Linked DNA regions of Homo sapiens: region 2 is linked to region 1. The links come from fine-mapping of genetic effects on plasma protein levels. A gene starts in region 1. The other region holds a variant in brackets. All regions are shown on one strand. Distances are between the middles of the regions.

Evidence for each region. PIP is the posterior inclusion probability: the model's chance that the variant is causal. Protein levels are from the aptamer-based SomaScan assay of Sun 2018.
Region 2: its variant is fine-mapped to the plasma level of the PLA2R1 protein (Sun 2018, PIP 0.95).

The regions. Positions count from the first base shown.
Region 1 is chr2:160,055,236-160,070,819 of GRCh38, forward strand. PLA2R1 (phospholipase A2 receptor 1) reads right to left here and starts at 7,380. Exons shown (of 30, transcript NM_007366.5): 1 at 7,060-7,380. The coding sequence starts at 7,168. It overlaps LOC105373717 (a long non-coding RNA gene), which reads left to right. Exons shown (of 3, transcript XR_007087274.1): 2 at 891-995; 3 at 5,228-5,566. RefSeq lists an enhancer at 1-660.
Region 2 is chr2:159,822,928-159,838,511 of GRCh38, forward strand. It overlaps LY75-CD302 (LY75-CD302 readthrough), which reads right to left. Exons shown (of 38, transcript NM_001198760.1): 26 at 12,553-12,718; 27 at 11,117-11,284; 28 at 8,743-8,859. LY75 (lymphocyte antigen 75) reads right to left here. Exons shown (of 35, transcript NM_002349.4): 26 at 12,553-12,718; 27 at 11,117-11,284; 28 at 8,743-8,859. Among named protein-coding and RNA genes, the nearest start is that of CD302, 33 kb to the left of the region's middle. The variant A/G (reference allele first, on the strand shown) is at 7,875.

The sequences.
Region 1 (15,584 bases):
GATGAGAAAAGTATGAAGGGGAAGAAATGCGAGGGATGACAAACAGAAATGGGAGAAACGGAGTCAAGAAGGCTGGCATGATTCAGGGCCAGGAAGGGCAGCTAAACCACTATCCGATCACGCTTTTACTGAAATTCCGTTTCCAGATTAGTAGAATGGCTCATTGCCTAGGGACATCAGAATTGCCTAGAACAATACATAAATCAGTAGCTTTGCACATTTCTGCTTTAGGAAAATATCACTCCCACATGTGGAAGGAGGGGTTTGGAAAAGGAGGAGTTGCAGAGAACAAGAGGCTGGCCTCCTATTCTTCCTGCTGTGAAACCAAATCGCATGCTTCTGTCATGCAGCAGGATACAGAATGAACCACACCATGGGGTCACAAGGCTATTCAGGGATCCTTTGCATTAGTGCAGAGTGCTTGGTTCGAATCCCCATGCTGCAAGCTCCTGTGGGCACAAGTTACTTAACCCTTCTTCATCTGTAAAAGAAGGGTATGTATTAATGTTGCCTACCTGTTTTGGTGAGGAGACAATGTGTCGATGTAAATAAAACAACAAAGAGTAACGACTCCCCAGCTGTTAGAAAATACTAGAAGCAGTAGAGGGGCATTTTTACCTTTGTATTAGAAACAGAAGCTATGCAGGAAATCTCAGGGCTACAGCTTCTCCCCACTGCCGCCTCCAGGTAGTGGCTCTCATCGCCCTCTTTCAGAAGGTGGCAGCTACCCCCCTTCCTCGCCACTGGGGCCCTCTGCCCTGAACCATTCTTCCCCCCATTCACCATGGCTTTGATACCAGCAGACTCCCCGCTATTCTCCACACCCCAAAGCCACTTTAGCTTCCATACAGATGACCCAACACTCTGACTCGATGCTTTCCCCACTGCAGGTTGTGGCCCATTTATGGTCTTGAAATCAACTGAATGTGTTATGACCAGCGAGACAAAACGAAACAGAATGGAACAGGGGGAAATGTAGCAGCATGTCATATTAGGTAAGGGTATTTTTTAAAAAATGAAACATTGTTTCAGTTATACATATGTAGACCTATATGCTGTGGGTTGTGATGTAAAATGTATTTCTTATTGTGGTTTGCTGACAAAAGAGTCCCAAACTCTACTCGACTTTAGCTTTGCTCTGGACATTGGGCTCCCTGACCTCCTCTGCTGTGAGGACCTTCTTTTGCCTCTTCTTCACTTTGGTGACCACTCCCACAAACACAGCTTGGATCTGGTCACTACCAAGAATAGGTCCATCTCCAAAACTTGGATTTTGCACTCTATAACCACTACCTCTCCTATTCTGCAATCTTCCCTCATCTAACTTTCACTAACTGTTTTCTTTTGTTGTTGTTTTTAAATATATATTTTCCTCTTTTTAAACCCTGTTTCTTGAACCCAAACTTTCTGCTCCTCAATCTTCCTATTGGGACTGACTTAGCTCAGCTTTAACTATCCAGACGGTTTCTTTGCTGCCTTCCAGAATTACCCTCTTCAAGGTGATAGGAGACCCTCTTCAAGTCCCAGACTGAACATGGCACTTCTAAACTTAAACATGCAATCTGGTTCCCCTTTGTGCAAACCCACAGGGCCCTTCTCAGCAGTACCCAATTCACTCAGCCAGACTTTTTCCAGAAGCAGGGTGCCTCCAACCAAACTCTTCCTCATCTCTCTCATGCTTCCAACTATAGACATGTCACTGCTTCTTGTTTTGCCTGGGACCCTACTCTGGTGGTCTATACCATCCACAGCCCTGGATGAAGCAGCATCCATCCCTGTGTCCACCTCCTGCCTCTACCATGGCCAATTAGCCAGGGGAAGGCCTTCGACTTGAGGGCAGAGCACAGGAACTAGCTAGCATGCTGTGAAGAATGTAACCAGACCCCTCTCCTAGGAAATTAAGGGACTCTTCCCAGGAAGCTAAGGGAGCTACAGAGGAAAGTCCTACTAGTCAAAGCCAAAGAAACAGTCAACAGAAAGAACAACCAAGCAGGAACCACCATAGAGCCCCAGAGACAGAGAGAAACAGATAAAGTAATGCTTCATGTCAGTGGCCAGTGCCTGTTTCCCAGGAGGCCTGGCTGCCCTGAAGAACCTGTCCTGGGTCCCCCTTGAGATCCTGGGACCATTACAACCAACTCCACGTTTGCCTGAGTGACCTTCAGTGGGCCTCTTTCCTTGAATCCAAAAGAGCTCAGAAGGGAACTTTCAGCTCACTGAACTTTTACTGTTGCCTGACACGTGATCCTGGGCCTTTGCACATGAAATACATGTTCCCAGGAATGCTCAGTCTCCTTTTTCCTATATGGTAACTGCCTACTTATCCTTTAGGAAAACAAATGTCTTTTTATGAGCCTCCAGCTCCCCAGGCCAGTGCCTCCTCTGCATGCCTTCAGCACTTTGCTCATCCCTGGTTATCATAAGACCTCTCTCACTGTTTTGTAATTGTTTATGTTTCTGTATCTGTCCCTGGACTCTCAGCCTCTTGGGGCCAGTGTCATATCCTACTCATGTTTTTACCTCCCCAATCTGGAGGTGGGTAGCAGATTCTGTTGGTTTCCTTCTCACACCCTCTAACCTGGAGCTCACTCACCTGCAGACAGTCCTCGTGCACTCCCACTGACTTTCTGTGGCTCTCTGCCTGGGAGAGACCAGGAGCACCAGGGGGTGAATGCCCCAGGAGTGACCTTAGTCAATAAGAGGCGGGAGTTGGTGGATAAATACTTCAGCTTCCTGCCCGTTGGTGGGTCCACTGAGTTCTATACAGTTCCTCAAAGGGTCCTTTGTGAAACTGAGCCCCAGTGGTCTGTGGTGGCTTTCTTCCCTCTCTGGTCTCATGTCCTCACTCCCTTACCATGCTTTCTAGAATCACCTCCAAAAAAAAAAACTACTTGCACCCTAAGGAAAACATGTCTCAGGAATTGCTTTTGGATGAACCCAACTAAAACAGGTAGATAAAGCACATATTGCCTGACAGATAATGAACAACTGAGGCCATCAGCCCCTACCCCTCTTTCCGTCGGCGCAGCATGTCGAGAGACACCCCGTACACCCAACCCTGTTTCACTTTCTTCTCCCCAGATAGGACCTGATGGCAAGCACACTGACCACACACTCATCTGCACCCTCACCTCCTTTGATCACTGGTCATTTAGAAGAGCCTCCCCTGAGTGTCCCCAGGCACTGACACAGACTTAGGTTCTTTCCACTCCTGCTCTGGGAAGCTGAGCACTACAGAAGGAAACTCTCCTACGATATATTAGTGGGGGACCATTTCACATTTATCATTTTTCAACCCTCAACAAAGCTTCAAAACCCTTTTACTTGCCCCCTGATCATTTCCTTTAGCAATGACTATGCCCAGTTTTCACCAGGATGCTCCATCCCCTTCTTCTTTCTCCCCGCTGTCCACTTTGTATCTGGAGTACTTGAGTGAGTGAAGTTAGTGTGTCTTAGCACTTGCTAGAAGAAGGGCTCAGATTCTGATCAGGGAAAACAAACTAAAATCAGGCTCCTTGGAATAACCAGCTAGAGCAAAGGTCCCCCACCTTTTCTGCCCCAGGCACTGGTTTCACAGAAGACAAATTTTCCACAGGCCAATGGGGTGGTGGGGTGGGGGATGGTTTTGGGATGACTCAAGTGCATTACATTTATTGTGCACTTTACTTCTATTATTATTACATTGTAATATATAATGAAGTAATTATACAGCTCACCATAATGTAGAATCAGTGGGAGCCCTGAGTCTGTTTTCCTGCAACTAGACGGTCCCATCTGGGGTGACGGGAGACAGTGACAGATCATCAGGCATTAGATTATCATAAGGAGCTCGCAACCTAGATCTCTCACATGCACAGTTCACAATAGGGTTTATGCTCCTTTGAGAATCTAATGCCACCACTGGTCTGACAGGAGGTGGAGCTCAGACAGTAATGTGAGGGAAGGGGAGCAGCTGTAAATACAGATGAAGCCTCTTTTGTTCACTGTTGCTCACCTTCTGTTGTGTGGCCCAGTTCCTAACAGGCCACAAACTGGTAGGTGGCCTGGAGGTTGGGGATGCCTGAGCTAGAGGTAGGAGGAGATGAGTTTCAGACCTGCCAAGTACAGTGCTGTGCACCGTAGTAAGTAATTGTTATGGGGCTGTCAACCTGTCAAAATGTCTGGATTGGCCAGAGGAAGAGGGTGCCATGGTGAGAGAGCAGCAAAAGGACAACACTTAGATGTGTACTATTACTAGCTCCATTTTACAGATGAGGAAACTGAGCTACTGACTGGCAAAATACCTGTCCAGGGTCACACGGATGGTAAATGGCATAGTCAGGATTTGAACTCAGATCGTCTAGCTCTGAAGCCCGAGAACTTAACTACTATATAATACTGTATCTACTGACTTTTGAATACAGAATTGTATTACTCCATTTTCACACTGCTGAAAAAGACATACCCAAGACTGGGAAGAAAAAGAGGTTTAGTTGGACTCACAGTTCAACATGGCTGGGGAGTCCTCAGAATCATGGTGGGAGGCGAAAGGCACTTCTTACGTGGCAGCGGCAAGAGAAAGATAAGGAAGAAGCAAAAGCAGAAACCCTTAATAAACCCATCAGAGGTTGTGAGACTTATTCACTATCACGAGAATAGCATGGGAAAGATTGGCTCCCATAATTCAATTACCTCCCCCTGGGTCCCTCCCACAACACGTGGGAATTCTGGGAGATACAATTCAAGTTGAGATTTGGGTGGGGGCATAGCCAAACCATATCAAGAATTATTGATAAATCATTGGAAAATCATCACAGTACAATCCATCATCTGCCTCCCAAGGCTGGCATGCTTGTAATACATATCAGATCTACAAATAATACATATCAAACAATTCAGATAAAAAATGCTGTATGTATAATCTGCTGTGCATTATTACATAGCCATTATTAGTGGATTGGAAATGAAAATGAGTGTGCATTTTTCTCTCAGTTGCTCTGTGGATGTCAATCGTGGCTAAAGTGAGTCAATGTGGTACAGTGAACACAGCGGTAAACTGAGGCACCCCAAAGCATGGCTAACTACATGGTAGCCATACCTCAACTTCCACATCTGAAGAATAGAGGGCTAGAGTAGACAATGTCTCAGGTTCTTTTCAATGTTAAGATTTTGTTTTTCCATTTTGTATTGACAGTAAAAACTTGACTTCAAACCTGTCCAGCTTACACTTGAAATTCTACTCATGCAGGTGACTGGAGTCAGGGAGAGAGCCTGTGCCTGTGCGAGGAATGGTACATAACCTCCGTGCTCCTTGGAAAATCAGCAGCAGCATTTTCATATCTGAAGAATCTCTATGCCAACTATGTCAACCTTTTCAGATGTGCAAATTGCACCTAGTAGGTACAAGGGCTAGCAGATGGCTCTAATTTCAGAGTGCCCTTGACTACTAAAAAGAAGGCACTGATGAGAATTTGTCTCAGGCCAGTATTTGGTTCTGCTACATATAGAAGGGATTAGCCCTTCACTCGGAGGATCACCAGCACATACTCTCTGTGTGGCCCAGTCCAACTTCTGTCCTGTGGGCTGCTGCCCTGTTCTACCACCTAGTGCCCAGGCAAAACCCACATTTTAAAATGCAAAGGAATAACCACTGCATGGTAAACTTAGTGGGAAGGAATCATACATACTACAGGATCAGATGTGCATCCACAGGAGCAATTTTCTGAATTGACCAAGAAGGTAAGAGCATCTCTGACTTTGGTCACTTTAGAATAAGAATGGTCTTGTTCTACCTGCCCCTGATTAAGCCTCCAGGGAGCTTAGGAAACACAGTCTAGAAAAGACTACCTCAAAAATGTAGACATATTCTACTGTGGAGGAAAAAATGTGAACGCAGATATTGATCACATCTTGTGTTACCCCTTCTCTCCAAACTTATCTCCAAAGGCAGAGAGGATGGAGGCTGTCTGGAGGCTCCTCCTGGCATATTTAACTCCCTCCTGTCCCCCTCCTACTTGCATATATGGACTTCTGCACTTAGGCGCAGGCTTCTCTGCCTGAGGTGGCCCATTCTCAAATGCGGGCCCCTGCAGGCCAGAAATCTCTCCTCCCTCTCTTTACACAACCTTCTGAGTCTCATGTGTAGTAGGTGCTCAATAAGTGTTTGCTGAATTGAACCCCGTTTTTCCACTGAGAGAGACTAAGGCATAAAGGCTTCAGATCACGCAGTTCATGGAGCCACTGGGGCTTCTCTCCCTCACCTGGCCTGATGTTTTCAGGCGGGGTGCGGTGGGTCAGGCCTGTAATCCCAGAACTTTGGGAGGACGAGGTGGGCGGATCACTTGGGCCCAGGAGTTGGAGACCAGCCTGGGCAACATGGTGAAACTCCGTCTCCACCAAAAATACAAAAATTTTGCTGGGCGTGCGGGCGCACACCTGTGGTCCCAGCTACTCGGGAGGCTGAGGTGGGAGGATCGCTTGACCCCGGGAGGCGGAGGCTGCAGTGAGCCGAGATCCCGCCATTACACTACAGCCTGGGCGACAGAGCAAGACCCTGTCTCAAAAAACAAACAAACAAAAAAAGTTTTCCTTAAGGAAGGGATGGACTGGGGAGGCCTGGCTTGGGGGTCACTCCTAGGTGGCGACGCAGACCCTGAGCGCTTGCTTTGCAAGGGGACGAACTGAGCCATCTTTTTGCTATCATTTATCCGTCCCAAATAAGCAGCTCTCAGAAAGTTTCCGTTTTGAAACTTCTCCGACACTCCTATCCCGGGCTGGCTCCGGGCGCCAGAGCCGAGAGGAGTTACCTGCGAGACCAAGCCCCCCCGCCCCCGCCGCCCGACCCCCGCAGGAGCCAGGAGGGTGCCGGGCCGCGCAAGTGGGGTGCTGGGCCTAGACAAGAGGCTGCAGGACACCACCCGCTCCCCCCATGCTCAGGACTGCTGACACACGAACCCCTACAAACGCGGCCGCCCTTGCCCGCCAGCTTGGCCCCTAGCTTCGCCCCTTCTTCCTCTCCTTCGACCACCCCGACCCCCCTCCCCAACGTACCGATCCAGTCCCCGACCCTGGGAGACTCACCCTGCCACTCCAGGAGCCGCTCGGGGGTAAGCGCCGCCGCCACACCCTCGGCGCAGCCCCGCGGCGCCCCCAGCAGCAGCAGCAGCAGCAGCGACGGCGACAGCAGCATCGCTAACCACTGGGCTCTCCGGGAGCCCCTTGTCCCGGGAGCCCCTTATCCCGGGAGCCCAGAGCCGCGTCCCAAGCACCCGGCCCCGCCGCGCGGAAGCGGATCCGTAGCCTCCTCCGCGCCCCACCCCCTCCGGGGGCCTTGCCAGCCCAGAGCCCTGGAGACCCACTCCGCCACCGCTGTCTCCACAGTGAACCGACACTCGGGGCTCTGGGCTGGGATGCGGGAAAGTCGCGGAGGTTTTCCTCGCCCCACCCACTGCGGCTTGGGGAAGGAGGAGGAGGAGGGGTGGGCCATCTGCCCATCCCAGAAATTCCTGCCTTTGGGGTGGGGACAGGCGGAGTGAGGCTGCTCGGGTCACACTCTCCGCTCCTCTAGCTTGCAGCCCTGCTCTCTCCTTTCTGGGGGAGGCCGAAGAGGAGTTGTGGGTGAGCGATTTGAGAATCTCCGGGACAAGGAGCCTGACATCCGGGTTTGCAAACCACCTGGATTCTGGTAAACACCGCGGATTTGCAGCGGGCAGCCTAGAGTGAACCCAGCTGCTCCGCGACGCAGGCGCTTTGGGAGGGTCCTGGACTCCTTTGACTTGTGGAGCACTGGAGACACCTGAGGGGCCACGCCGTGGTCTCCACCTTCCTTGCCCCAGAGTAACCCGGAGATTCTTCTATTCAGCTCCTTCGGTTTTGAAATAACCTCCTCTTTCCAACTCCTTTGATCCCCCAAGCCCCGCAAAGTAGCCGGGGTCCCTATTATCCCATTTTTACAGCTGAGAAACCCTGCCCAGAAAGTCGAAGTGCTTTGCTCTAGGTTACTTCCTAATCCAGCAAAAGTTACTCTCTAGCAAGTAGGACAGCCCTGGCTAGAATGTAGTCGTTCTAACTGTCCTCCTTCAAATAACCAGCAGAACACTGGAAGCGTTTAATATTCTGAGAACAGGCTCATATAAGACCTTTCCTCAGCGGGACCTTGACATTAGTCATTAAAACATAAGAGAGGGGGAGGGGAGGGGCAGAAAGCAGAGCCTGGAAGGAAATGCCTAGCAGGGAGCAAGATTGAAGGTCAGAGCCAAATGGGGAAGAAGGGAAAGTGGTTGCCTTGGCCATGGCCTTAACAAAAGGTGCTCAGTCCTGCAGGAACCTCAGAGAGCCTCAGAACTGTCTGTCGAGGACAAAAGGGGCAAGCGTTTATCCATGGACTTTATCCTTCCCTGTTGGTAAGGGAGATCCTAGGGTTATTAACTCCTCTGCACTGTTCTACAGCAGTGGTGAGTTTCAGTCATGGTCCCATACCTTGTCTCTTAGAAGCCCTGGGTGCATAGCATGGCAAAAGGTGAGGCGCTGTCAGGTTGTTTCTCAGAGGGTTGGGGGGTGGGGGACAGCCGGGGGAAACAGGCTGCAGAGGGGGCTGGAATAAGAGGTGGGTTGAGAGGATGTGAGAGGTTCCAATGTGTGTAGAGTTTATAACATATCATTACATGTAGAATTCAGCATCCTTGCTTGAAAACATGCAGAAAAGAGATGCTTTAAGCCTAGTAGATTACACAGACTTCAGCCACAAACTATGTATCCATCTCTCCTATGGCCTCAGAACTACATTGCTATGGGAATATCCCCGTAGTATTATGATAGAAGATTTGGCCCTGCCCGAGCAGGCTGGCATGTATTGCAGCAGGCAAGTGCAATGCACATGACATAATTAGGTCATAAAACAGGACACTGATGCTAATCTCTGGTGAGGTCCAGGGCAGTGAGAGTAAAGGGGAGAGAGACTAGGCTGGAGTGGGCATAGAGGCCTAACTATGCTCAGATAGTATGGTGGGTATTGGGAGGAAGAGGCTGTTCTAGGATGGGAAGAAATTGTGAAAAAAAAAATTATACAAAGGTTGGAGTGAGAACTGCTTGTATGGGAGAGAGTGAGGCATGCCTGGCTGAAATAAAGGCAGCCACTGGGGCACCCTGACGAATGAGGACAGTTGCTGGGACATTGGGCTACCTCTCACTGGCTGTGGACCAGGGTGAGTTATTCACGTGCTATGGTCCTGTTTTAGTCTCTGTATAATGAGGGGGGAAAATGCCTCCCTTGACCCATAGCAGATGCTATTCTGAAGTAGCAGAGCTAGGTCTGTGAGTAGGATAAGAAGGGAGAAACAAACCTTATTTCATCTTCAGAGCAATTAGTATAATGAAGAGAGGTGTTGACAGCTTCCTGGCCTACCAACCCCGTATTTTCTATTCAACCATTAGAACACTCAGAAAAGAGCTACTTTTTCTTTTTTTAAAAAAAATCTCTTCCTGAAACACTGCAGCTTTGAAATGGAAATCTGTGGTAAAGGGCTTTTTAACCTTCAAGAAAATGACCAGCACCCATATCCTGGGCTCACGTGTGTTTCAGGTTCATGAGGCAGTGTAGGGTCATGGTTAAATGAGGCAGCTCTGCCACTTACCAGCACACCACTTAGTTTGCCCCAGCCTCAGTTTCCTTCTGTGTAAAATGGAGATAATAATGTTTGCTTCATTGTGTGGTTGCATTAAATGAGCTAATGTATGCAGAGTGCTAGCACAGTGCTAACACACTGTAAAGTTCACCTCTGGGAGCTGTGGGTGTGTGGGGAGGGAGTGAGGAGCAGAGAGCAAGAGCAAAGGAGAGCTCAGAAGCCATGCTACAGAGCACTGTGCTAGTGGTAATTATGGCTCTGGACTTCAGCTGGGGAACACAGCAGGGAGGGCTCAGTGCCTGCTGGCCTTTGTACAGCTTCCCATTGCTTCCCTTCTCCTTTGGAGTTGGAATTCATTATTTATATCTCTCACCTGAATGTGAGTTCCAGGGCAGCACACTTCCTGGCACTTAGTCATCTCTCAGTCTCTGCTGAATGAGCGAAGGAATGAGGGAGGAAAAGAAAGAGGTTGAAAGAAATGAAGTCAGTCTTCACTTAACGTCATCTATAGGTTCTTAGAGACTATGATTTTAAGCAAAATGGCATATAATGAAACCAATTTTCTTTTTCTCATCAATGTCATAATGAAATCACAGTGAAGGAAATAATGTTGTTTGAGGACCTGCTGTATGTCATTTCACTTAAAATTGCAGTTTCCAAGAACCTGTCCATGGTGTTAAGTGAAGACTTACTGTACAGTGTGTGGAGTGATTTGAAACTTGAGAAAAATATTAAAACTTTGAATGGTATTGACAGTAAAGAAAATGGGATTTAAAACTCAATGTATAGGTTGCGGTTTGTCAAAATTAACAAAACTTTTTGAGCACTGTATGAATCAGGGTATCAGCAAGAAAGGGTGAGGTCCTGGTTTGTTGAATGTTTACCCAAGGGACTGTGAACCCCCAAAATTTGAGATGGGCCTCAGTTAATTTAGAAAGTTTATTTTGCCAAGGTTGAGGACACACACCCGTGACACAGCCTCAGGAGGTCCTGATGACCTGTGCCTAAGGTGTTCAGAGCACAGTTTGGTTTTATACATTTTAGGGAGACATGAGACATCAATCAATGTATGTATGATGAACATTGGTTTGGTCTGGAAAGGCGGGACAACTTGAAGTGGAGAGCGGGGCTTCCAGGTCATAGGTAGATAAGTGACAAGTGGTTGCATTCTTTCAAGTTTCTGATTAGCCTCTCCAAAGCAGGCAATCAGATATGCGTTTATCTTGGTGAGAAGTCTTTGAATAGAATGGGAGGCAGGTTTGCTATAAGCAGTTCCCAGTTTGACTTTTCCCTTTAGCTTAATGATTTGGGGGGCCCAAGATATTTTTCTTTCGCATTTCCCCCCTTTTCTTTTGAAAAATCTTTTGAAGGCCGAGCATGGTGGCTCACACCTGTAATCACAGCATTAAGGGAGCCTGAGGCACGTGGATCACCTGAGGTCAGGAGTTCAAGACCAGCCTAGCTAACATGGTGAAACCTCGTCTCTACTAAAGATACAAAAATTAGCTGGGTGTGGTGGTGCACGCCTGTAATCCTAGCTACTCAGGAGGCCGAGGCAAGAGAATCGCTTGAACCTGAGAGGCAGAGATTGCAGTGAGCTGAGATCATGCCACTGCACTCCAGCCTGCATGATAGGTGCATTCTCTGTCTCAAAAAAATAAATCGTTTGGAGCAAATTAGTCTCTGGTTCCAGGTTTAGTCTTTTATCTGATATCTCATGGCTAGGATGATTTATTCCTAGACAGGTAGGTCCTGAGTTATTAGGAAAGCTCATTTTTAGAAAGTTGTAAAGTCTCATGTCCTATGAAGAGAAAATAGGGGGAGGAAGGGAGAACAACAACAATAAACAAAAGAAATATTTTGGAAAATCAATGTAGACCACATTACTCTGAAGTCCATACATCAGTAGGCAGGTATGAAAGTGGCTTATGTATGTAAATAGGTTTTGCTGTTATTTTCTTCTGAAGTTCAAGTTGTCTAGTTTCAGTTTGCAGAGCTTTACAAAAGCACAGCTTTGTTTTCAGTGACTCCAAATTAGGAAAAATGGGGGGAAAAGGAAAAAAAATTAAAAACATTATTTTGAAAACTTATAGCCAAAAAAAATTAGAATTCAGTCCAAACTGTAGAAAATAATAAAACTGAAAAACATCAGACAAGACTAGAATCTAACAACAGGTGTACTACAGTTTTTGAAACATAATTTTTCTCTCTCCAGTTTCCCATTTTTAAAGACAAATCATGGTAGGACTGATTTGCTTTATTATACTTATCCTAATTATTTGCATACTGTGCAGCAAGAATAATTATTTTTTTACATAGGCTTTTAAATTGTCTTTGGTGGGACTTTATTCCATAGAAGGAATCTCAGATAAGACTTTTTTAAAGCCGAGCCCAGCCGTGAATTTGTGCCACCTAATACCTGTGAATTGGGTGATCCTTTCCTCTTGAGGTTCCAAGATAAACTTGGAGCTCCTGGGCCTGTCAGAAAGTAACATTCTTTACTTACCACAGGTCAGGAACCCTGTACAGGGAAGGTATGAGACCAGTTTCCCCAAGGGCTTTTATTGACTCCATAAGTCAAGTTTGATTCCTTAAAGGAAAGCACACCATTAAAGCCTTGGTAAAATAACCAATGTCTCCAATTGCGTCCTGTTGCAAAATGAAAACAGATTCTTATTGCAGTTATGCAAATAACTGTATTGCCATAAGTTAAGAATACTCACAGATAGTTTCCAAATTCTGGAGAAATCAGGTAGAGGGAAACAGATATGCTCCAAATTGTGTTCATAGGAGTATACTAAATTGTTAAAGCTGTCAATAGCTCAAAAGAAAAGTTTCCTTGACTCTGAAAAAAGCAGAACAAAGGATCAGCAACATTTAAAGCAAAAATCAAAAAATTAGTCTTCTATCAGTTCAGTTTACATAGTTAACTCCTGTTCTGCTTGATATTCATGAACATTTTAGCTCTCCATGAGAGTCCTGAAAGTTTTTCCTCTATTCTAATGTCACAATCTCCAAAGTTATCAGAAACCGGCATTTAAGAACACCTGTTAGACTTTTATAGCAGATTAGAAAACCACCTCCTAAAGAGGACCAAAACAAGACAACAATTGTCTGTGGATGACAAAAAATTTTAGGGCAGCCATGGTCAAAGACACAATTGACAAGGAAATTTGTTACATCTGTGGCACACAATAATTTAACATAACAATTATAAGTATTACTGATAATATACAGTAAGTCATATCAGAATTATAGGAGTTCCCATGATTTTGGAACAGATACCATATATTTATATAAATACAGCCTAAAGAAAACCAAACACCATTTCATCTTTGACAATGTTTCCTGTATAATATTTATACCAGACAAACCAAACTATGTCATCTTTGAACTTTAAGGAACTTAATATCTTAAAGGATTGATTAGGTTAGAAAAAGACATAATTTATAATTTGATTTTGGAAAGTTCATCAAATATCAAAGGTTTAAAGCCCTTGATATCACAAAATAAGATCATTCATTTAACCAAAGTGATAACTCAAGGATTTAAAAAGGCAAAAACCTTCATTCTTTGAGAAAGGAGACTTGACATTCCAAACAATAAGCTCTAATAAAAACAGCATGAAGCCAATTAAATTTGTTTTTTGAAATTTTATAAATGATCTATAAAATTTTAATCTTGACCGTAAGATACAACTTCCATAAGCCTTTTATAACCTTTATTGAGGAGTCAGTTAATGCTTCAAGAAAACCTTGTTAATTTGACAAAGGGGCCAATATGCTAGTCTTGCATCACTGCGCCTTTAACATTAATTATTACTTTTTAGAGAAACTGAACTTATTTTATCTTTCAAAATCAGCCCTTAGAATCTCACATGCCCACCTTTTCCATGATAGTTCCTGGGCCTTGAGTTGAAATAGCTTTAATTTCTGGTCCTGTGTCTTAGGAATGCAGTTTATTTTGATTGGCATCTCCTACAGGGCCTGAAAATGGGGCTTTAATTGCTGTCAGTGTTTAAAATGTAGTAGGAGTTGTTGTCCTTTTTAGACCCAGGAGTCAAAGCCCTGTAACTCAGTGTCACAAGTATTTTAAAAGTGCATATGGAGAGATGAAAGATAGATGGATGTAATAACCTTAATTAAAAAATTTTAATCTCAGTTTTTTTCCTAAGCAACCCAAAACTTAAATAATAATATGACAACTTGATCATATAAAAGTTTTTGGTTTTTAAAAAAATAAATCCTCTTATTGTGACTTACATAGACCATTCATGACATGCTTGTACTTTCTGGTTTGTTTTGAACATCCCTCTTTCTTAAGCAACTAGTCATTTTACTCTAGGACTAAATTTACCATACGAGATTCTTTCTCATATGAAATTATTTCCCTTTACGCTTTCTCACAAAAAAACCCCTCTTTATTTTAATAACTTTCTGTACATCTCTTTTATTTCCTGGTTCCTTTTACCTTGTTTTATACATGACCTTTAAATAAGCTTTGAATTAGATAAAAATTGTTCACCTTTTTTTTTAAAGGACACATTTGTTTTGAATGTTTTCCTACAAATATATTTTTATTGGAAAATACCCAAATAATAAAATATATGTGATTTAATTTGATATAACTTTAGATTCTAAATTATGATGAGCTTGTCTACAAGTATTTATCCTATTATATTTACCTAATAATTTTTTTGTCATTTACTTAGAGTATTTACAAAAACCGTGATTGTCATTATTTAAAGTTACAGAACCACCATTGCGAAATTGTAACTGAGAGAGTGGAAAAGATTTGACCTGACTGACTCCATCTTACTTCTAACCTCCAAACTGTTCTGTTCATTCCTGGGCATAGGTCAAACTAACTTTGGGAGGAACTTAGTTGATAGTTTAGCTTTAAAACAAAGACTGTGACAGTCCTTTCCCAAAACAAACCTTACTGCCTGTAGAATGGACCACCTAAAGCCACAAGATTAGAAGATATGGTAATCGTACTAAATTCAAGATGTAGAATTTTTTATTAAACCAATATCAATATCTTATTAAAGATTACTCAAGCAAAGGTCTTTCTGATTTGGGCTGGGTGTATAGTTTTATAACCCCTATGCCAATTTTTGACAACTTATAGTATTTGGCAGGGAAAAATATGAAATTGCCTGATTTATAAATGCAAACAAAAACGTATGCTGGCAATTCTTAAGACATTTCTAACAATACTTTACCAATAATTGTAAAGCTAACTTATTAAAGATTTTACTTAAGTTACATAAGCTTGAAAAAGCATTTGACTAGTCTTTTCTTTTATCCTGATAAAGTATTTGATTCAAGTGCTTTTATTTTCTTAACCCAATTAATTAGAGGTTTTTTATATATTTTCAGTAGTGAAACATTGTGTACACAACAAATAAATACAAAGACATATTAGGCATGCTGATAGAAATACATCTTATAGATTCATAAAAACCTTTTTTTTTCTATCTTACACTTTCAGATTCTAGATAAACTGTTTCACAGCCCTAGGCAGTTGTCAGCTAAATAGCCTTAAATTTGCATTTAAAGGAAACAACCCAGGTGAAAACCAAATAGCAAAATTTATGTCATAAGGTACAGAGAGAAAATATCTGGTGGTCCTAGAGGGATATTAAAGATGGATGCCAAATCAGACAAAAAATTATAGAAATCTATCACAGGATTGTATAAGAGGACCAATTTTGTCTACATAGGGACTACCTATCTTTTAACAGGATCTCTGAGCTCTGGGCAAAGCTCACACTGAATCCTGGGTCTCCAAAAAGGAAGAATTATTATGAGTTTAGACCATGTGATGCTTTTACAGTGCACTTAAAAAAATTTTTTTTTAAATAAAGACATTTCCAAGTGTCTGAACAAACCACACTCTTCCTTAAAAAACCAAGAGTAACCTCTGCTGCAACAACTATTTTAGGCAAAACACACACACACACACAAAACAACCCAAACA
Region 2 (15,584 bases), 230 kb before region 1:
GACCCCATCTGAAGGTCACCAACATCAAAGACCAAAGGTAGATAAATCCACAAAGATGGGGAGAAACCAGTGCAAAAAGGCTGAAAATTCCAAAAACCAGAACACTTCTTCTCCTCCAAAGGATCACAACTCTTCACCAGCTAGCGAACAAAACTGGATGGAGAAAGAGTTTGATGAATTGACAGAAGTGGGCTTCAGAAGGTGGGTAATTACAAACTGCTCCGAGCTAAAGGAGCATGTTCTAACCCAATGCAAGGAAGCTAAGAACCTTGAAAAAAGGTTAGAGGAACTGCTAACTAGAATACCCAGTGTAGAGAAGAACATTAGTGACCTGATGGAGCTGAAAAACACAGCATGAGAACTTCGTGAAGCATACACAAGTATCAATAGCTGAATTGATCAAGCGGAAGAAAGGATATCAGGGATTGAAGATCAACTTAATGAAATAAAGAGAGAAGACACGATTAAAGAAAAAAGAATAAAAAGGAATGAACAAAGCCTCCAAGAAATATGGGACTATGTGAAAAGACCAAATCTACGTTTGACTGGTGTACCTGAAAGTGATGAGGAGAATGAAACCAAGTTGGAAAACACACTTCAGGATATTATCTGGGAGAACTTCACCAACCTAGCAAGACAGGCCAACACTGAAATTCAGAAGACACAGAGAACAACCCAAAGATACTCCTCGAGAGGAGCAACCCCAAAACACATAATCATCAAATTTACCAAGGTTGAAATGAAGGAAAAAATGTTAAGAACAGCCAGAGAGAAAGGTCAGGTTACCCACAAAGGGAAGCCCATCAGACTAATAGTAGATCTCCCTGCAGAAACTTTACAAGCCAGAAGAGAGTGGGAGCCAATATTCAACATTCCTAAAGAAAAGAATTTTCAACCCAGAATTTCATATCCAGCCAAACTAAGCTTCATAAGCAAAGGAGAAATAAAATCCTTGACAGACAGGCAAGTGCTGAGAGATTTTGTCACCACCAAGCCTGCCTTACAAGAGCTCCTGAAGGAAGCACTAAACATGGAAAGGAAAAACCGGTACCAGCCACTGCAAAACATACCAAACTGTAAAGAACATTCACACTATGAAGAAACTGCATCAACTAACATGCAAAACAATCAGCTAGCATCATAATGACAGGATCAAATTCACACATAACAATATTAACCTTAAATGTAAAGGGGCTAAATGCCCCCAATTAAAACACACGACTGGCAAATTGGATAAAGAGTCAAGACCCATCAATGTGCTGTTCAGATGAGATGGGTTCAGGAGACCCACCTCATGTGCAAAGACACAAATAGGCTCAAAATAAAGGGATGGAGGAATATTTACCAAGCAAATGGAAAACAAAACAAAAAAAAAGCAGAAGTTGCAATCCTAATCTCTGATAAAACAGACTTTAAACTAACAAAGATCAAAAGAGACAAAGAAGGCCATTACATAATGGTAGAGGGATCAATGCAGCAAGAAGAGTTAACTATCCAAAACATATATGCACCCAATACAGGAGCACCCAGATTCACAAAGCAAGTTCATAGAGACCTACAAAGAGACTTAGGCTCCTGCACAATAATAGTGGGAGACTTTAACACCCCACTGTCAATATTAGATCAACGAGACAGAAAATTAACAAGGATATTCAGGACTTGAACTCAGCTCTGGACCAAGTGGACCTAATAGCCATCTACAGAACTCTCCAGCCCAAATCAATAGAATATACATTCTTCTCAGCACCTCATCGCACTTATTCTAAAATTGACCACATAATTGAAAGTAAAACACTCCTAAGCAAAAGCAAAAGAATGGAAATCATAAGTCTCTCATACCACAGTGCAATCAAATTAGAACTCAGGATTAAGAAACTCACTCAAAACCGCACAACTACATGGAAACTGAACAACCTGCTCCTGAATGACACTGGGTAAATAACGAAATGAAGGCAGAAATAAAGATGTTCTTTGAAACCAATGAGAACAAAGACACAACATATCAGAATCTTTGGGACACATTTAAAGCAGTGTGTAGGGGGAAATTTATAGCACTAAATGCCCACAAGAGAAAGCAGGAAAGATCTAAAATTAACACCCTAACATCAAAGTTAAAAGAAGTAGAGAAGCAACAGCAAACAAATTCAAAAGCTAGCAGAAGACAAGAAATAACTAACGTCAGAGCAGAACTGAAGGCGATAGAGACAAAAAAACAACCTTCAAAAAATCAGTGAATCCAGGAGCTGGTTTTTGAAAAGATGAATAAAATAGATAGACCACTAGCCAGACTAATAAAGAAGAAAAGAGATAAGAATCAAATAGACACAATAAAAAATGATATAGGGGATACCACCACTGATCCCACAGAAATACAAACTACCATCAGAGAATACTATAAACACCTCTATGCAGATAAACTAGAAAATCTAGAAGAAATGGATAAATTCCTGGACACATACACCCTCCCAAGTCTAAACCAGGAAGAAGCTGAATCCCTGAATAAGCCAATAACAAGTTCTGAAATTTAGGCAGTAATTAATAGCCTACCAACCGAAAAAAGTCCAGGACCAGACAGATTCACAGCTGAATTCTACCAGAGGTACAAAGAGGAGCTGGTAACATTCCTTCTGAAACTATTCCAAACAATAGAAAAAGAGGGACTCCTCCTTCACTCATTTTATGAGGCCAGCATCATCCTGATACCAAAACCTGGCAGAAACACAACAAAAAAAGAAAATTTCAGGCCAATATCTCTGATGAACATCGATGCAAAAATCCTCAAGAAAATACTGGCAAACCGAATCCAGCAGCACATCAAAAAGTTTATCCACCAGGATCAAGTCGGCTTCATATCTGGGATGAAAGACTGGTTCAACATATGCAAATCAATAAACATAATCCATCACATAAACAGAACCAATGACAAAAATTACATGATTATCTCAATAGTTGCAGAAAAGGCCTTCGACAAAATTCAACACCCCTTCATGCTAAAAACTCTCAAACTAGGTATTGATGGAACGTATCTCAAAATAATAAGAGCTATTCATGATAAACCCACAGCCAGTATCATACTGAATGGGCAAAAACTGGAAGCATTCCCTTTGAAAACTGGCACAAGATAAGGATGCCCTCTCTCACCTCTCCTGTTCAACATAGTATTGGAAGTTCTGGCCAGGGCAATCTGGCAAGAGAAAGAAATGAAGGGCATTCAAATGGGAAGAGGGGAAGTCAAATTGTCTCTGTTTGCAGATGACATGATTGTATATTTAGAAAGCCCCATCACCTCAGCCCAAATTCTCCTTAAGCTGATAAGGAACCTCAGCAAAGTCTCAAGATACAAAATCAATGTGCAAAAATCACAAGCATTCCTGTACACCAATAACAGACAAATAGAGAGCCAAATCATGAATGAACTCCCATTCACAACTGTTACAAAGAGAATAAAATACCTAGGAATACAACTTACCTGGGATGTGAAGGACCTCTTCAAGGAGAACTACAAACCACTGCTCAAGGAAATAAAAGAGGACACAAACAAATGGAAAAACATTCCATGCTCATGGATAGGTAGAATCAATATCGTGAAAATGGCCATACTGCCCAAAGTAATTTATAGATTCAATGCTATCCCCATGAAGCTACCACTGACTTTCTTCACAGAACTGGAAAAAACTACTTTAAACTTCATATGGAACCAAAAAAGAGCCCGGATAGCCAAGACAATCCTGGACAAGAAGAACAAAGATGGAGGCATCATGCTACCTGACTTCAAACTATACTATGAGGCTACAGTAACCAAAACATCATGGTACTGGTACCAAAACAGAGATATAGACCAATGGAACAGAACAGAGGCCTCAGAAATAACACCACACATCTACAACCATCTGATCTTTGACAAATCTGACACAAACAAGCACTGGGTAAAATATTCCCTATTTAATAAATGGTGTTGGGAAAACTGGCTAGCCATATGCAGAAAACTGAAACTGGACCCCCCTTCCTCACACCTTATACAAAAATAAACTCAAGATGGATCAAAGACTTAAATGTAAGACCTATGACCATAAAAATCCTAGAAGGAAACCTGGGCAATACCATCCAGGACATAGGCATGGGCAAAGACTTCATGTCTAAAACACCAAAAGCAACGGCAACAAAAGCCAAAATTGACAAATGGGATCTAATTAAACTAAAGAGCTTCTGCATAGCAAAAGAAACTATCATCAGAGTCAACAGGCAACATACAAAATGAGAGAAAATTTTTGCAGTCTATCCATTTGACAAAGGGCTAATATCCAGAATCTACAAGAAACTTCAACAAATTTACAAGAAAAAAACAAACAACCCCATCAAAATTGGGCAAAGGATATGAACAGACACTTCTCAAGAGAAGACATTTATACAGCCAACAGACACATGAAAAAATGCTCATCATCACTCGTCATTAGAGAAATGCAAATCAAAACCACAATGAGATACCATCTCATGCCAGTTAGAATGACAATCATTAAAAAGTCAGGAACAACAGGTGCTGGAGAGGATGTGGAGAAATAGGAACACTTTTACACTGTTGGTGGGACTGTAAATTAGTTCAACCATTGTGGAAGACAGTATGGCAATTCCTTAAGGATCTAGAACTAGAAATATCATTTGACCCAGCAATCCCATTACTGGGTATATACTCAAAGGATTACAAATCATTCCACTATAAAGATGTATGCACACGTATGTTTATTGTGGCACTATTCCAATAGCAAAGACTTGGAACCAACCCAAATGTCCATCAATGATAAACTGGATAAAGAAAATGTGGCACATAGATACCATAGAATACTATGCAGCCATAAAAAAGGATGAGTTCCTGTCCTTTGCAGGGACATGGATGAAGCTAGAAACCATCAATCTCAGCAAATTAACACAGGAACAGAAAACCAAACACCGCATGTTCTCACTCATAAGTGGGAGTTGAACAATGAGAACACATGGACACAGGGAGTGGAACATCACACACTGGGCCTGTCGGGGGGTAGGGGGCTAGGGGAGGGATAACATTAGGAGAAATACCTAACGTAGGTGACGGGTTGATGGGTGCATCAAACCACCATGGCATGTGTATACCTATGTAACAAAACTGCACGTTCTACACATGTACCCCAGAACTTAAAGTACAATAAAAAAAGAAGAAAAAAAAAGAAAAACACTTTTGTGGCATAAGTAAAGTCATGGGAGAAAATATTTGGAAATTATTTATATCCAGAAATATAAAATTTTATATTTTATATAAATTTTAAAATAATTTGGAAATTATTTATATATTTATATATAAATACTGGAAAGTATTTATATCCAGAATATATAAAGAATTCTTACCCCTCGACAATAAAAAGACTCAATTTAAAACATGAGCAAAAAATCTGAATAGGGATTTCCCCAAAGGTGATATACAAATATTCAATAAGCACATGAAAAGATGCTTAATATCATTAGCCATTAGGGAAATGAAATAAAAATCCCAGTGAGATATCATTCCACACTCACTTAGATGGCTATAATGAAAAACACACAAATGTTGGCATCGATACGGAGAAATCAGTACTCTCATATACCGGGAATGGAAAATGGTATAGCTGGTTTGGAAAACAACCTGGTAGTTCTTCAAAGGGTTAAACAAAAGATGCAGCAATTCTATTCCCAGGGGTTTACCCAAGAGAAATGGAAACATATGTCCATGCAAAAACTTGTACGTGAATGTTCAGAGAAGCATTATACATAATAATTAAAAATGGTTTAAAATTTAGGTTGTTTTACCTAAATGTCCATCAAGTGATACATGGATAAATAAAATGTATTATATCCATAGAATGGAATTTTATTCAGTCATAAAAAGGAATAACGTACTGATACATGCTACAATGTGGATAAACCTTAAAATCTTTATGCTTAATGGAAAAAGCCAGTCACACGCAAAAAGCACACATGGTATGATTTCATTTATGTAAAATGTCCAGAATTTTACATTCAGGCAATCTGTAGAGACAGAAAGTAGATCAGTGGTTGCTGAGGACTAGGAGACAGGGAGGGAATACTAGTGGGTATTGTGTTTCTTTTTGGGGTAGTGATGATTGCAATAAAGCTTTAAAAAAAGGTGCTAGGCATATTACAATTATAAATTGGTATAAAGATTGATGCCATCACTACCTACACACACCCAATGTTGTCCTGGTTATTTCTGGTCTTCATTGATTACCATCTCCCAAGGCAAGACCCCTAAACATCTGCCTGCAGCAATGACACATTAGAAGCACTGCACACACGATTTGGTTCTTGTTTGCTGCTTTATATCATCTCATGCCTTCCAGTTCCTCTTCCCTTCTCCTAAACTTCAAAGTTATCAATTTTCTGACCAATATGATGTGCAATGGTAGATTTCTAAAGTTGTTTTAAGAAAAAGTCACTTTTTTCACTTGGCTTAATGTATCTCTCAGTTGACATACTGTGGCTTCTCATAGTAATTTCTATTCATGGCCCTGCTATTGAAAAATCAAAAATGTTTAAAAAAACAAACTTCTTTGGGTAGGTGCCAAATACAATTAAATATTCTATATCAACGTAACCAAAAACAGTGACTTACAGTGATTTCTATTCATGGCCCTGCTATTGAAAAGTCAAAGCTGTTTTAAAAACAGAATTCCTTGTATAGGGGCCAAAAAATTAAATATAAGTATATCAAAGTAACCCAAAACAGTAACTTACAGATGTAAATTAAGTCAGTAAGAATGAGATTCAAATCAAATGTGCCATTTGCCTGAAATGTCTTTCTATATGTCCCTCATATGCCTGTATATTTTAATAGAAATTTTATTACTCAAACATTTTATGAAAGAAGGTAAAACAATAAGGGAGTCTTCTGATCTAAAAATGCTTTTTCAGAATTTATAATAGATTTTCAGTTGCTTCTGATAATATAACTACAAAGTATACCAAAGGGTACAATTTCAATCTCTCTGTCCTGGGTGTGGTCTCTATGGCTCAATACAAGACCATTGTTTCTTCAGTCACTTTCAGGTGAAGCCTCAGAATTTTCCAGCTAGTTTTTCTCCATTTTAATTCAAGGGTAGTTAAGTGTCATCAGAGAAAAGGTTTGGGCCAACTAAGTCCTACTATGATGAACTTATCCTCACTTGGTAAACCAAGTCTTTATCTATTGCTTGATAGTTTAATTTCCATTAACCCCTCTGCCAACCATAAACATTTCAGGAAAACATTGGTAACCCCAAGAAACAGATGGGTTAGAGAGCAAAGGAGAAGCCTATTTTTAAAACAGGCAGATTTGAGTAATTTAGCTTCTTTTCCTTCCCTACCCCTGGTTATCATTGTCCTGTGCCCCTTATCAAACCCTCTTTAGAGTAAATGTATGCTTTTGATGCTCTATGGCCGTGGAAAGGTTTTCCTAATTCCAAAATGTCTATGATTTTCAGGACATTTCTGAGCATCTTTCTAAATGCTCAGAAGCATTTAGAAACAAGACCTTGTTTCCTCTATATTAGACTGTTTTAAAAAATTTTGTTATCAATCATATTTTGGATTGGTGGTATTTAGTCCAAATTCCAAATATTCGAGCCCATTGTCAGACCATGTGTCTCATTTTTCTATTCTTTTTTTTTTTTTTTTGAGATGGAGTCTTGAGTCTCTGTTGCCCTGGCTGGAGTGCAGTGGCACCATCTTGGCTCACCGCAACCTCTGCCTCCCGGGTTCAAGTGATTCTCCTGCCTCAGCTTCCCAAGTAACTAGGCACACGTCACCATGCCTGGCTAATTTTTGTATTTTTAGTAGAGACAGGGTTTCACCATGTTGGCCAGGCTGGTCTC[A/G]AACTCCTGACCTCTGGTGATCCACCCGCCTTGGCCTCCCAAAGTACTGGGATTACAGGCGTGGGACGCTACACCTGGCCATGTGTCTCATTTTTCTAATGCTTATCATATGTGGGCCAGTATAAACTAAGCCAGGGTTATAAACCCAAAACTGCAACACTAATAGAGTGATTCTGTTCTTGCTCATCTCACATAGTTAGTGGAAACAAAAAATAAGTATTGAAGATTTATATGGGATGGTGATCATTTTTAGTTAGTCTTGAGTTGCTACATAAAAGAGTGAAAAAAGAAAATTGATATGGTTTGGCTCTGTGTCCTCATCCAAATCTCATGTTGAATTATGATCTTCAGTCTTGGAGGAGGGGCCTGGTGGGAGGTGATTTTCCCCCTTGCTGTTCTCGTGATAGTGAGTGAGTTCTAATGAGTTCTGGTTGTTCAAAAGTGTGTAGCACCTCCTCCTTCACTCTCTCTCCTGCTCCACCATAGTAAAACCTGCTTGTTTCCCATTCGCCTCTGACATGATTGTAAGTTTCCTGAGGCTGCCCAGCCATGCTTTCTGTAAAGCCTGTGGAACCGTGACTCAATTAAAGCTCTTTTCTTCATAAATTACCCAGGTTCGGGTAGTTCTTTTTAGCAGTGCGGGAACAAACTAATTCAGAAAATTATTTTCCGCCATTTAACTTTAAACTCGATGATAAAGGCAGAGCAGAGACATAAAAACTGTCTTGGTATTTATGTAAGTTATGCTAAGTACATAATTATACTTTCACGTATTGATAGACATGTACTTTGAAGAACTATGGCTTGATAATTATGTTATAATGAAGTACAAAAACAAATAGAGAAAGTTGGCAGATTTACAACTTACTTCTATAAGTTATTCCTAACATGACCCATGAAGCCATATAATTGAAGTACAGCAGTTGCTCAAGAACAAAGTTATTCTCCTTTTCATCTCGAATACTCAGAATATGTGATTTTGGATCTGTTGAATAAAAAATAATCAATAATTTTAACAATTACTTATCTAGTACACTTCTATTTGATAAGTTTAAAACATTTTAGTTCTCAGTTTAATATACTTCAAAATATAAACAATATTGGACAATTAGAAACATATGTAAAATAAAATTATCCCATTGTACTAAAATTAATAGGTTAAGGAGTTTTCAAATGTTTTGATGTTAAATTTGGTCTTATGGTATAATAGAAAACTAGTAGCTGAGTAGAGAATTTAAAACATTGATTCACTTCACTTTCCCCTATTTAAAGGTAATTTTTCAGTTGGTATAAATCCACCCATAGTAATGATATACTGTCAAAGATTACGCTATAATAATTAGAACCTCTTAGATGAACTATAACAGGGGTTCCCAACCCCCGGGCCACACACTGGTACTGTTAGGAACCAGGCCTGTTAGGAACCGGGCCTGTTAGGAACCGGGCCATACAGCAGGAGGTGAGCAGCAGGCAAGCGAGCATCACCGCTTGAGCTCTGCCTCCTGTTAGAGCACTGTGGCATTAGATTGACAGAGGAGTGCAAACCCTCTTGTGAACTATGCATGCGAGGGATATAGCTTACATACTCCTTATGAGAATCTAACTAAGGTCTGATGATCTGAGGTGGAACAGTTTCATCCTGAAACCATCCACCCCTCCCTGTCAGTGCCAAAAAGGTTGGGGACTGCTGGGCTATACGACAGATCTTCCTTTTCCTTAGTTTTCAGTATGAGGGTTAAAAAGGCTTAATATTTCCCAAAGGGTGTTCCTCACAAAATTAACAAGGAAGTTTCAGAAAAGATCTACATGGATTTTAAAAAAAGTTTGCAAACATTGGTTTAAACAAAATTAAACTAGTTTATGCCAGTATTTCTTAAGGCATATGTTAATGTACATTTGTTAATGTCCAACAGGAAGCTATGGTGTCTAGTGTTTCTCAACCTTTTTCTTTTTTGTTGGTTATTTTTTTCAACCTTATTCTAAGGACTTTTTGCAGACCATCTCTCAAGACTGATGTTATACGGAGCATGCTTTGGGAAATACTGGTTTGATATTTTCTATAGCAACTTTCACTAAGTTCATTGTTCCATTGGTTCCAACAGTTCCATCATTTGGAAGTCACAAATCCTTAGTGGATCTCATAGGAATTATCTGAAGACTCTTGAGAGCTGAAAATGTGAAATGTGCACTTCTTTAAGCTTAGCTGCTGCCTTGTGGTGTATCTAAGCTTTTGACTGCTCCAACTAACTTATTTTCACTTCCCCATAGCCTAGCTTGATTTAATGTCCAGTTCTCTGCTCTCTTGTGTGTCATTTCTTTCCCCCTTCCTTTTTTTTTTTTTTTTTGGAGATAGGGTCACCTGTTATCCAGGCTGGAGTGCAGGTGGTTCAATCACAGCTCACTGCACCTTCAACCTCTTGGGTTCAAAGATCCTCCCTCCTTAGCCTCCCAAGTAGCTAGAATTACAGGCATGTGCCACCATGCTTTTAATTTTTTGCAGACAGAAAGTCTCACTATGTTGCCCAGGCTGGTCTTGAATGGTTGGCATCAAACAATCCTCCCACTTCAGCCTTCCAAAGAACTAGGATTACAGGCATGAGCCAGTGTGCCTAGCCCATTTCTTTTCCTTTTAAAGGAGAACCTGCCTTCCTTACAAACATAGACTAGTTCTTGAATGGAAGAGTAAAGAAAGGAGTTATGCCTATACTTTCCATTTTAACTAACACAAATTTTAATACTTTGTCACTGATAATGTAGATATTAGGAGATGAATATTTTTGTCATCTAGTTACTAGTGCTAATTAGAAATATTTATAACACAGGAAATATTTTTTTAATTAGCAAAATACAATAAGTAATGACAGTATAATATACTTGATATGGTTTGGCTGTTTCCCCATCCAAATCCCATGTTGAATTGTAGCTCCCATAATCCCCACATGTCATGGGAGGGACCTGGTGGGAGGTAATTGAATCTTGAGGGTGGGTTTTTCCCGTGCTGTTCTCGTGATAGTAAGTCTTATGAGATCTGATGGTTTTACAAAGGGCAGTTTCCCTGCACATGCTCTCTTGCCTGCTGCCATGTAAACATGTCTTTGCTTCTCCTTTGCCTTCTGCCATGATTGTGAGGCCTCCCCAGCCATGTGGAACTGTGAGGCCATTAAACCTCTTTTTCTTTATAAATTACCTAGCCTCGGGTATGTCCTTATAGCAACATGAGAATGGACTAATATAATACTTACTCAGTTTCTGGCATTTAGTATGAACTTCATCCTGTGTTGTTGCCATATGCCTATTCTTTGTTATTATGAAATTGTAGCAACAGTTCTGAAATGGTATCCACGGAGTATTTAGAACAGGAGATGGACATTTAACACTGTCAACTGGTTTGACCTCTTTTTCAGTCTCATCTAGAAAAAGAGTTAATGGTAAGAATTCTAATTTGAGATATAAATGTTAAATCCTGTTTGCAGTCATTAGGCTTGATTTGTAGGAAATATTCAGGAAGCCGAGAAGTAATATCCTGGTGAAGCCTGTCTCTGTTTATACTCAGATATAGCACACAAAAAGCCAGCTTTCTATAGGAAGGAAATTACTTGACACAATTTTCTTACCCCTGCTGTGGCATGGAAGAATGTAAAAAATGAGGTGCTATTAGGTTAAATGCAGTTTCTGTCTTCCTGCATTACCAAATGTCAAGTACAAGGGACCACCCCTAGAGATGCTGTACAAACATATTCATTATTAAAAGTCACCTAACTATAACTCTGAGAATTTATTTTAAAGTTTCTGTCTACTGATACTATTAATTTTAAAGGAACATTTAAATGAAACATTGATGTTCTAAATAAGTTATTGCTTTAACCAAGTCAAACAAAAATAATATTTAAAATCTGACATCTACAGTATCTGATTATGATCTTTTTCCATTTTATGAAAAGGCCATACATTCACAAAGATACAAATATAAACATATTCCACTCAAATACATTAAACTGATTTAATATGTGGCAGAGATCACTCAGTATCTCTCCTGGATCACAATAAGTCCCTTTGTCCATGAAGCAGTGTCTTCTTTCTACCACAGACCCACAAATGTGACCTTGCCAGTTGTAAAAACACTTTCCTCTGACTGGGCTAGAGACTGCACACCTGACTCAGGCTAAGTTCATGAGATGTTCTCTAGGGATTTACAAAGTGAAATTTAGAAATTGTCAACTCATCTCCAGTTATAGGTTCAGCTCTATCCCCGTTTTGGGGATCCTAAATTTCCCCTTGTCTTAAGCTAGCTTGAGGTGGTTGCTGTGAATCTTAAGACTCATAAAAGTCCTGTTAGTTGTGATATTATGAATCACAAAAGAATTCTCACAAATGTAAGCTTTCTACAACTATAAATATATGCAGAAAGAGGTAGAGTAACAATGGGATTTTAAGTGTTAATCCCCATTGTCAGCTGACATAAAAATAAAACATGCCTAAAATGACCCATTAATAATAATATATGTAATATATAATTCTACTTGAATACAAATTTTCACAACAAATGTTGCCATAAAAAGACATGACTATAATTTCTTCACAATTCCAAAACCAGATTTTATAAAACCACTCCTCAGAAATTCTACCACTTATGGGACTGTTAATAATTTAAGAATTAAAAGATCTGAAATTCACATACTTCCTGAATAGTAGCAAATAGCACCTGGTTGATTGTCATTGCAATCAACTGTTTTCCAGAATCCATCAGTGTCTAATACTACACAGTCTTCGAGTTGCCCATTAGTTTCAGCCCAGCGACTAAAATGAAGACGTTTCCCATCTGACCAACCAAAGTTGAGTTCATCCTGTAAGGAGCAGAAGTACATTTCAGGTGGCAATATTGATGTTAACCCTTTGTATTATTTTGACTCCCATGGTCAATCTAATGATTTTTAATTTTTTTAATATTTAATACACATTTACATACCATTTACTACATAACAAGCATTGTTCTAAATGCTTTACAAATATTGGCTTACTTAATCCTTGTAACAACCATATAGGAGAGGTACTATTATTATCTCCATTTTAAAGATGAGGAAACTAAAGGTATGTAACTTGTGCAAAGTCCCACAGAATACAAACCACAGTGCTGGGCCTTTCTGCCAGGCTGTCGATCCCCAGAGTCTATGTCCTAACCATTATGCTACGCTGCCTCACACATAATTGGATCCACTGGTTATCAGAAATCAGAAAGCTAAAATGGGGTGAGGATCACTATAAGTACTGATTAGATCAGAGACCACCTGGCATAGTGGAAAGAATATGGGCTACGGAGCTAAACCTACATGGTTTTGAATCCTGATTCAGTCACTTACTAGCTTTCATGTGCCATCTCTCCAAATTTCCATCCCCTACCAAGTTAAGTGTGACACTTAACTTCGTGGGGCTGGAATTAATGGGATAACATGTGTAAAGCCCGCAACCCAGGGGCTAGCTGGCACACAGAGAGCTGGTGGTTCCCTTCCTCTGAACTCTTCAGGCGCTGTGGCTCTCACATCACTGTTTTCACACTTGTTGGGGAGAGAAGCTTCTTCATTCACTAGATTCTGTTGTGTGCTAGAGGTCTGTGAACGTCTGCCTTTACACCCTGCCAAGGTCCTGACCACCCATCTAGGTACAGGAGATGGATTGTGGGGTACAGGCCTGTCTGAGCTTCCCCATGGTGCTGCCAGAGACCTTACATACCCACTGGTGGGCCTGGTGCTGGCCTAACAGACCCACTGAGCTAAGCTTTCCTGAGTCCCAAGACAATCTGCATCACTAGTTTATTTGAAATATGGAACGAAGCGACACAGTCTCCTTAGTAAACCATAAACAGCAACACAGTCAAGCCTCAACACCACTCGCTGCTTCATTCTGAAATGTTCATGACCAGAGTTCCAGCTGTAATCCTAGCCCCTAACCTAACCCAGTTAGGGCCTAAGCCACTGTGGCCTCCAGTGTGGCCCTTCGGCCATGCGACTTTGCCTGCACTCATTCAGACTGCCCTGCATTTCTTCCCCTTTGCTGCACTCCCCACCTAACCCTGTCCCTGATCCTTTGGAATTTCCATTCCATCTAAATAAATCATCCCACACCTTTTATCTTTTTACTGAATACAAAGTATGAAGACTATAAATATCTTTTCACTAAATTCTTGATCTTAATTGATCTTAATTTAACTCTGGCTTTTCCAGGGAATGCTCACACATTGTTGGTGGGATTATAAATTAGTTCAGCCCCTGCGGAAAGTAGTTTGGAGATTTCCCAAAAAACAAAAATAGAATTACCATTCAACCCAGCAATCCCATTACTGGGTATATACCCAGAGGAAAACAAATCGTTCTACCAAAATACACCTGCGCTCATATGTTTATTGTAGCACTATTCACAACAGCAAAGACAGGGAATCAATCTAGATGTCCATCAGCAGTGGATTGGATCAAGAAGATGTAGCACATATACATGATGGCATACTGTGCAGCCATAAAAAAGAACGAAATCATCTCCTTTACAGCAACATGGATGTAGCTGGAGGACATTATCCTAAGTAAATTAATGCAGGAACAGAAGACCAAATACCACATGTTCTCACTTATATAAGTGGGAGCTAAATATTGGGTACACATGGATGTAAAGATGGGCATGATATTGTCTGGGGACTCCAAAAGTGGGGAGGGAGTGGAGCAAGGGTTGAAACACTACCTATTGGGTACTGTGTTCACTATTTGGGTGACAGGTTCAACTGAAGCCCAAGCCTCAGCATCCCACAGTGTATGTATTGTAACAATCCTGCATGTGTACCCCCTGAATCTTAAATAAATACATAAATCTGGCTTTTCCAAGGGAATAATCTCCTTTCAGCACCCACAGGGGAAGACTATTTGATATTCTATTCTCAGATACCACAGGACTATGAGAAAGGAGTAGTGGATATTTTTATCTCCTTTTATTTCCTTTCAGGATTATTCCCCTTGTATCACTGCAAACTCCCCATGACATTCACTGAGGACTTGGTCGCCTTGCTCCTCCCTGACATTCACTAAGATGTCCCAATTCTTGCTGTCCTCCCGGTCCTACCATTAACTTGGGATGCCTGTGTTCATGTTTCCAAGCCTTCTTGACTTCCTTTAATTCTATGTATTTTTATTTCTTCAAGCTGGGTACTTGAGTGACCCACTGCATGGCCACACTCTGCACTTCACATAACCCAGAGCTGCCTCTCCTCAGACACTGTAAACGCCAACAGCATTTCCTGCATGAATTTATAGAAAAATAACTGCTCTCCCTCTCTCCAGCTGCTTGCGTCCTCCCCGGCCTTCCACACAGTGTCGTCTACTTAAGTAAAGTCTTATATTGCCACTACTCTGTTTAAAATCTTTCAATATCTTCTCATTGCTTTCAATGTAAAGTATTTATTAACATCCTGTCATTTTCAAAGAATTAAGGCAGCTATTAGGATATATAGTTAAACAGCTACACAGAATATGTTAAAATTAAGGGTGAAAGGGAAAAGAGAACCATAGGTAAAGGTTGAAAATAGGATAAGAAGTAAGACCCAAATCATTAAGTGGGGAGGGGAGTTACAAAATAGTCTGATTCCAACTGTCTAAAAAATAAATAGGTACACATAGAAAAATAACTTGAAAGATCCATACCAAAATATTGATTGAATCATGTTTATTTTTA